Homo sapiens: one gene and its partner. The protein of the gene in region 1 interacts with the protein of each later gene in a pairwise test. Each region holds a gene or a part of one and is shown on either strand. Other genes may lie near its edges. The genes, in order: PAN3 and SVIL.

What was found.
Region 2: the proteins of PAN3 (region 1) and SVIL interact in a two-hybrid assay, tested with the Homo sapiens proteins (one study listed by BioGRID).

What each region holds. Positions count from the first base shown.
Region 1 is NC_000013.11:28,256,854-28,260,676, reverse strand, and holds part of PAN3 (PAN2-PAN3 deadenylation complex subunit PAN3), read right to left. Parts: intron 231-3,823; coding exon 126-230; intron 1-125. UniProt on the Homo sapiens protein: Regulatory subunit of the poly(A)-nuclease (PAN) deadenylation complex, one of two cytoplasmic mRNA deadenylases involved in general and miRNA-mediated mRNA turnover.
Region 2 is NC_000010.11:29,530,437-29,534,259, forward strand, and holds part of SVIL (supervillin), read right to left. Parts: intron 3,023-3,823; coding exon 2,093-3,022; intron 1,737-2,092; coding exon 1,566-1,736; intron 853-1,565; coding exon 818-852; intron 233-817; coding exon 171-232; intron 1-170.

The DNA of each region.
Region 1 (3,823 bases):
TTCGATGTGCTTTACTAGAGCATATTTGATTAAATAATATGATTTGAAAAGAGCTCTGTTCTTTCCCCTGTTCACTAAAGCACAGGAGACATTAAGTATTCCTACTATGAATTCTGAAAGCATACCTGTCGGAGTTCATCAGCCATGAAGAAGGAAGGTGCGTTTGCTTTCGGTTGCATATAAGCAACGTGAGGTGCAGTTGGAGGATAAATATGATAGTTTGGAAACACCTAAAAAGGTAGGAAGGGGGTAAATGTAATCACTCATTTTTCTTTCTTTTTTTCAGATGGAGTCTTGCTCTGTTGCCCAGGCTGGAGTTCAGTGGCGCAATCTCGGCTCACTACAAGCTCTGCCTCCCGGGTTCAAGTGATTCTCCTGCCTCAGCCTCACGTAGCTGGGATTACAGGTACCCACCATCATGCCCAGCTAATTTTTGTATTTTTGTAGAGACAGGGTTTCACCATGTTGGCCAGGCTGGTCTTGAACTCCTGACCTCAGGTGATCCACCTGCCTCGGCCTCCCAAAGTGCTGGGATTACAGGTGTGAGCCACCACACCCAGCCTGACTAATTTTTCATAATCAATAAGCTTTATTATTGTTTTGATAAAATTTTAATCTTTACATGATAGCAATAAATTTTAATACATTTTAAATCTTTAAATAATATTGAAGTAAAAACCTCAGAGAATAGCTGTTAGAGAATACTTTCTGAAAGAATTCATATTAAAAATAATATTTCGGCCAGGCGCAGTGGCTCACAACTGTAATCCCAGCACTCTGGGAGGCTGAGGTGGGCAGATCACCTGAGGTTGGGAGTTCGAGACCAGCCTGACCAAAATGGAGAAACCTGGTCTCTACTGAAAATACAAAATTAGTGGGGCATGGTGGCGCAAGCCTGTAATCCCAGCTACTCAGGAGGCTGAGGCAGGAGAATCACTTGAACCAGGGAGGCAGAGGTTGTGGTGAGTGGAGATTGTGCCATTGTACTCCAGCCTAGGCAACAAGAATGAAACCCCGTCTCAATAAATAAATAAATAAATAAAATAAAAAATTAAAAAAATAAAAATAAACATAATATTTCAGTAATCAATTAAAAATCTAATGAGCCAGCCTGGCCAACATGGTAAAACTCCATCTCTACTAAAAATACAAAAATTATCCTGGCTAACATGGTGAAACCTGTCTCTACTAAAAATACAAAAAATTAGCCGGGTGTGGTGGCATGCACCTGTACTCCCAGTTACTCGGGAGGTTGAGGCAGGAGAATCATTTGAACCCGGAGGTGGAGGTTGCAGTGCACCAAGATTGAACTAACGCATTCCAGCTGGGGTGACAGAGCCGAGACTCCATCTCAAAAAAAAAAACAACAAAAAAAACACAAATTAGCCAGGCTTGGTGGCAGGCACCTATAATCCCAGCTACTCAGGAGACTGAGGCAGGAGAATCGCTTGAAACTGGGAAGTGGAGGCTGCAGTGAGCCGAGATCGTGCCACTGCACTCCAGCCTGGGGGACAGGGGAAGACTCTGTCTCAAAAAAAAAAAAAATCTAATGAGAAAGAAAACATTTCTTCAGATACAGTAAAATTTAAGCTCCATTGAGAAGATAAAAGTAGCTCTTTGGAAGAAATGTCACATAGTCAGCCTTCTGTATCCCTGGGTTCTGTATTCAAGGATTCGACCAACCATGGGTAGGAAATATTCAGGGGAAAAAAATGACAATACAACAAATGAGAAGTAATACAAATTAAAAATACATTATAACAACTATTCACAAAGCACTTATACTGCATTAGGTATTATAAGTAATCTAGAGATAATTTAAAGTATACAGGAGGATGTGTATAAGATCTATGCAAATACTATGTCATTCTATATCAGGGACTTGAGCACCCAGGAATTTTGCTATCTGTGGGCGTCCGGGAATCAATCCCCCTTGGATACTAAATGGCAACTATACAAGCAGTTCATCGCCACTTTTTGAAAGCAACTGGAAGGAAGGAAGGAGAAACTAAAGGTGTTTGGGTACTGGGAGATAAGGAAGTGATATTGCCCTGGCTGCCCAAAGAATTTCCCCTTTCACAGGCATTTTGTGGCCAAACTAAACAAAGTGTTATTCAAACCTACTCTAGGTCAGCAGTTTAAGTGAACAGAAGGATACAATAATACATTTACCTTCCAAGCAAACTACAATAAAGTTACTAAATCAGCTTCCAGCTTCTTGTCTTTCATTCTTTCAACTGGACTCATCCCACCACCCTTTGTTCTCTTTATCACTCTTTTCTCTGCCTCTCCTTCACTGGTCCATGATACAAAATCAAAGTTCAGTTTTAAATATCTTTTCTATTTTTTCATTCTTTCATTTTAAACAATGAAACCTTTTTTCTCTTTTAAAAACGAATTCAGCTGATTTGCGCTGCCCTAACATGACTGCTCTGCTCTGCATCTCAACTAGGAAGCAGTTTTGTGATACTTGTAAGGTTTCCTTTAGCCTGTGTCTGCAGGGAGAATAATATCTCTTTTTTCTTGTGTTGGTTTCCTTACATAAGATAGCATAGTTTAGGCTGGGCATGGTGGCTCACGCCTGTAATCCCGGCACTTCAGAGGCCAAGGTGGGCGGATCATTTGAGGTCAAGAATTTGAGATCAGCCTGGCCAACTGATCAACTGGGTGAAACCTCATCTCTATTAAAGATACAAAAGTTAGCCAGGCATGGTGGTGTGCGTCTGTAGTCCCAGCTACTAGAGGCTGAGGTGAGAGGAATGCTTGAACCCAGGAGGCGGAGGCTGCAGTGAACAAAGACTGAACCACTGCCCTCCAGCCTGGGTGAAATAGCGAACATCCATCTCAAAAAATATATATATTTATATAATTTTATATATTAATTATATATTATATATAATTTATATATAATATATAATTAATTATATATTATATATAATTTATATATAATATATATTAATTATATATAATATATATAATATATATTTATATAATTTAATAACTTTACATATATATAAAATATATATGTATTTTACAATATATTTATAGTTTACAATAGGGTTCATGTTCCTATGGAATCTAATGCCTCTGCTGATCTGACAGGAGGAGGAGCTCAGATGGTAATGAGAGCAATGGGGAGTGGGTGTAAATACGGATGAAACTTCACTTACTCGCCCACTGCTCACCTCCTGCTGTGCGGCCTGGTTCCTAACACTGGTCTCTGGTCCAAGGATTGAGGACCCCTGTTTTAGTGGACTCTGACTTTCTCACTCACTTCATCTACTACTTATTTTTCTAGGGTAAATAAAATAATTTTTGAATATGGATGAAGTAATGAAGCTAAAAAAGGTACAATTTACGTAACATGGAATCCTTCCCTCTCCTTCCCCATTCATTCTCGCCCCCTGACTCCTGTTCCTTCTCCCTCTCCTGGAACATTACTAATTGACTCTGATAAGAAATCTTTCTTTCTGGCCATGTTCTTCCTCTTTTGGTCTTAATATTCATGTTTCCTCTGGGGCCACCTCTTCCCATTTGTTTCACGATTCTTCCCTCACTTCATCGCCAGTCCTTTGGTAGCTCTTTCGTCATCTACAATCATGGCTCTCTTGGGTCTGACTACTCTATCTCCTGAGCATAAGAGCCATACTGCAGGCCCCTTATCATTATGTGTCACTCCACCATCCACAGATCTAGCTGTTAAATAACTACCTCATCTGAAATAAGGGTTTATCATTGATTTGCTTCCAGTAACTACTGAGGACATACCATCTACTTTTTCTAGCTTCTTACTGAGGTTAAACTATCTATACCTATAAACAAA
Region 2 (3,823 bases), on another chromosome or scaffold:
CCTCCCTAAGGCTTACAATTTTTATTTTTTTTGAGATGGGGGTCTCACTGTGTTGCCCAGGCTGGTCTCAAACTCCTGGCCTCAAGTGATTCTCCTGCCTTGGCCTCTCAAATAGCTGGGATTACTGCACCCAGTAGGGATCTCTATTCAAGCACGTCAGCACAGCTTACCCTGAAAAGCAACCTCTTGGCGGCGACGCTCAGCTTGGCTCGTTCATCCACCTTTTCTTCATCTGCAAAAAGCCACAAATTAAAAACTGGACATCATTAGAGAAGGTTAAGTTCGGTCTCCAAAAAGTCTTTCAGGGCTGACCTGGAAATCTTTGAATACAACAATAGGTGCACTAAAATAATAATTGGTGGTAGTTTCCCCTTGCAGGGAGCCCATTCTTTCTGCTCAGTGAAAAGGTACTAATTTCCCTTGCAATTCAACCCAGCCAAACCAAAGCAAACTCTGTCCAGGGATTTCTACTCTAACGTTTGTCTGATCGAGATTTCATGAATATATTTTATGGGGGGAATTTCTTTTAGTTTTAAATAGTAGCAGCAGCAACAACAAGAAGAACCTGCTCCTTTGGTTTGAATTAGTTGTTTTTACATTGGTCACTGTATGATTCTCTAACTGCTCTCAAAAAGAAGGGAAAGCTTGTCTGAAAATTTCAACTAGATTTTATCATATCCACAGAACGAAAACCTGCAGCAAAGGGAGACACTGTTATGCTCCATCATCTTACTCTCTCAAAAAGCCAAAAACCTTATTATTAAATCCAGTCTAGATGAGATAATAAAGAAGAAAAAAAAGGGAAACAGGTACTTGCCATCGACAGTTGGCGTTTCTGAATGTGAAGTGCACCTAGGAAAGACATTAGCAAATAACAATAATACATTAGCAGGTGGGAGCAGAAGATCGAAATAAAACATCATACTGAAAGTAAAAATAAAAATGCAATTAAATTCTTTTAAGAAATAACCTCCTGGTAGCAATTCTAGTTGTGAAAACACACATACAGTTGTGAAGCAACACTGTGGAGCGTGTGTGCACACAATCCCAGCCAAGTACACACCCCGTGGAGAGAGACCAGGCACAAGAACAACTTGTTAAACACCACTGATGACAATTTTCCAGACAAATCTTACCATTTCTATGCAATAGTATATGACACTTCAGTATAAAACTCAAATACAACAAGTAGATGGACATTTATAAAATGAATATAAAATTCCTCAGTTATTTTCACTGTAAAATCTGGTGAATATGCAATCTGGAGTCTAATTTAACAAGGGGTAAAAAACATTAAAACCATTAAATAAAGAAAAATAATGTTTCTTACTTCTTATCATCTGAATGCAATGTAAAATTGTGTATGTATCATAATACCGCTGTAAAGGCTAATATTCTTTAAAAAGACTTTTAAATAAGCCAAATAAATAACGCTTATAGGTTAGATGGAACAATTATGGAATCGCCAACATCCTATATAAATAGCGTCAAGACCGTCAGTGTGGTAAAACTCCTGTGTCATTGCCACGTTCCTGGATGAGGAAACTGCGCATACGCATGCCTACCTATCCGATTCCTTTCGTTCTGCTGAAGTTATAGGTTGGGTTCTAAATCTCTCGGAAGTTTTTCTACTTTCACCAGGAGAAAAATAGCGTCTTGGTTTCCGGGACCCTCTCTCCCGTTCCACACCGGTGGGCAAGCCAGGTCCTTCAGCCGACCTCTCCACCCGTGATTTGCTTTGAGAATCAAAGGGCAGAGAGTATAAGGAAGGCAAACGAAGACAGAGAAAGAGAAGATGGCAAAGGATTATGCATCTCCGTGAGTCAAGGGACAGACACCACCAAACCCCTCTTCATGCCTCTACCATGCACGTAAGGAAGGAGACATTCCAGACACCCAATCCACTAGTTCCCCATTAGTAGGCAGAAGCAGAGTGGTAGTTTTTGAGCCATTTTCCGCATAGTCGCCCTGCACGCACTTGTGAGCTAAGCTAATATGATTCAATGCAGAACACAACACAGGTCGAGGAGTGAATCATTCTGCCAGGGACGTGCAAGTGACACAGCTGGAGGGCGTGTGAAGCATCACCTACAGTTCAGGTCTCCTGCAGGCGTTGGCAGATGCCAGGAACGCACTTCGGAGCTGGGCGACAGAGACTTTTGTGTCCAGCATGCTGATCTCCCCATAAGGCCCTTCGGTCTTGGAGCTGGGCAGCTCCAGCTCTCTCCTGGAAGCTGGGTCCTTATACTTCAAGGCCTGGAGCTGAGGGGGGCCTGTGAAATCTGACAGAGAGCGGGTACGGACCTTGCGCTTTTTCGAGGCTTCCCTGTTGTGACCAGTTGGTTTGGCGTCTTGGGACACAGGCTCACTTTGAATGTAGAGAACCATCTCGCTCCTGCCTGTCCTCTCAGTGGGCTGGTGCGGAGCTTGAGGGGGTTGTGCCACGTTTTCCAGTTCCTTCTGATGCTCTAAGGTGACTGTGCTCACAGCAGGCTTACCAAAGTCCTCATTTCTAGAGGGATCTTCTGGGCTTCTCACTAGCCCATCACCCTCCAAAGCCAGTAGGGTTTTCTTGCTTTGCTCGAGAGCTTCAGTGAAGCACACATCTTCTTCTTTTTCTTCTCCTTCTCCTTCCCCTTCTTCTTCTTCTGCTTTTGACTCGCAGACATGGAGAACTGGGCTATCCCTTCCGTCACCTTCTAGAACCGTCAAGCTGGGAGGTTTGGGGACATTCTGGGTGGCTGATGCTACCCAGCTACACTCAGATGCATTTTCTGGGGTTTCTGGCGTCACTAGCTTGGCGGTGTGACCGGTATCTGCGGGTTGGACATAGCCACGGATTGGCTGTCGTGTAGAGCCTGCTGCCTTGCTGGGGACCCTATCAAAGGCTGAGTGCTCAGACTGAAATGACACGTAATGGACTGGCGCTGGCTGGTGTCTCCTCTGAGTTACGGACTCTGAGGCGAGTTCAGGGCTGTTTCGAGCACTTTCCTCTTTCACCAATTTTTCTCTAACTTTAACTCTTTAAGAAAGAAAAAGGATTTAAGTTGCAAAGTGCAGTAACGGCCTCACAGGAGGAAAGCATGCGTAGATCACAGATTACCAGTGAATGGAAACTGACCTGAGAGAGAATAACTTGTGAAAAAGCATTTTGGTGTCTAATGTCAACTACTTGTCAGATGATCCTGAGTTGAGTTTCCAATTTGCATATGTATGCCCAGGAGGTGCAAAACTAACTCTACCCCTGTAAAAGCTGGCAGGGGTCAGATGCTATCCTGGGGGAGAATGGGTCCCTTCTGACTAAATAAATACCCAGAAGCCACAGAAAAATGCGTTAATATCCACCACCAGCATGCATTAGGGCATAATGAGCCTGGTCCCTTGAATCAGTAAGCTTTCCTCATGTACACGCCCAGAACACGGACTGTGGGGGAAGGTTCCTGGCATACAGACACCTATTGACCAAACGCTGTAATTTCATTGTCGTCTGAAAATGTAAGAGCACTCACGATTATTTATGCTTTTTATTTAGTTCAAGATACAACAATCACCTCTCTTTTAAAGCACTCAACTAGACATTCACAAGCTTTTTCATGCAATGCAGAGTATATTCATTCATTCAGAAGGCATGTGGCCAGTCTGGGCATCATTATGAATAATTCTAGCACCAAAAGAATGTTAGAGAAAAGATAGTTGCTGACAGAACTAATGAAGTGAACATTTCCCACCACCATCCCCCTGTCCTGCTGTTATGCTCTTAGTTAAAAATGAATCCCAAAAGAGAGGCCGGGCCCTGGGGCTCATGCCTGTGATCACAACCTTT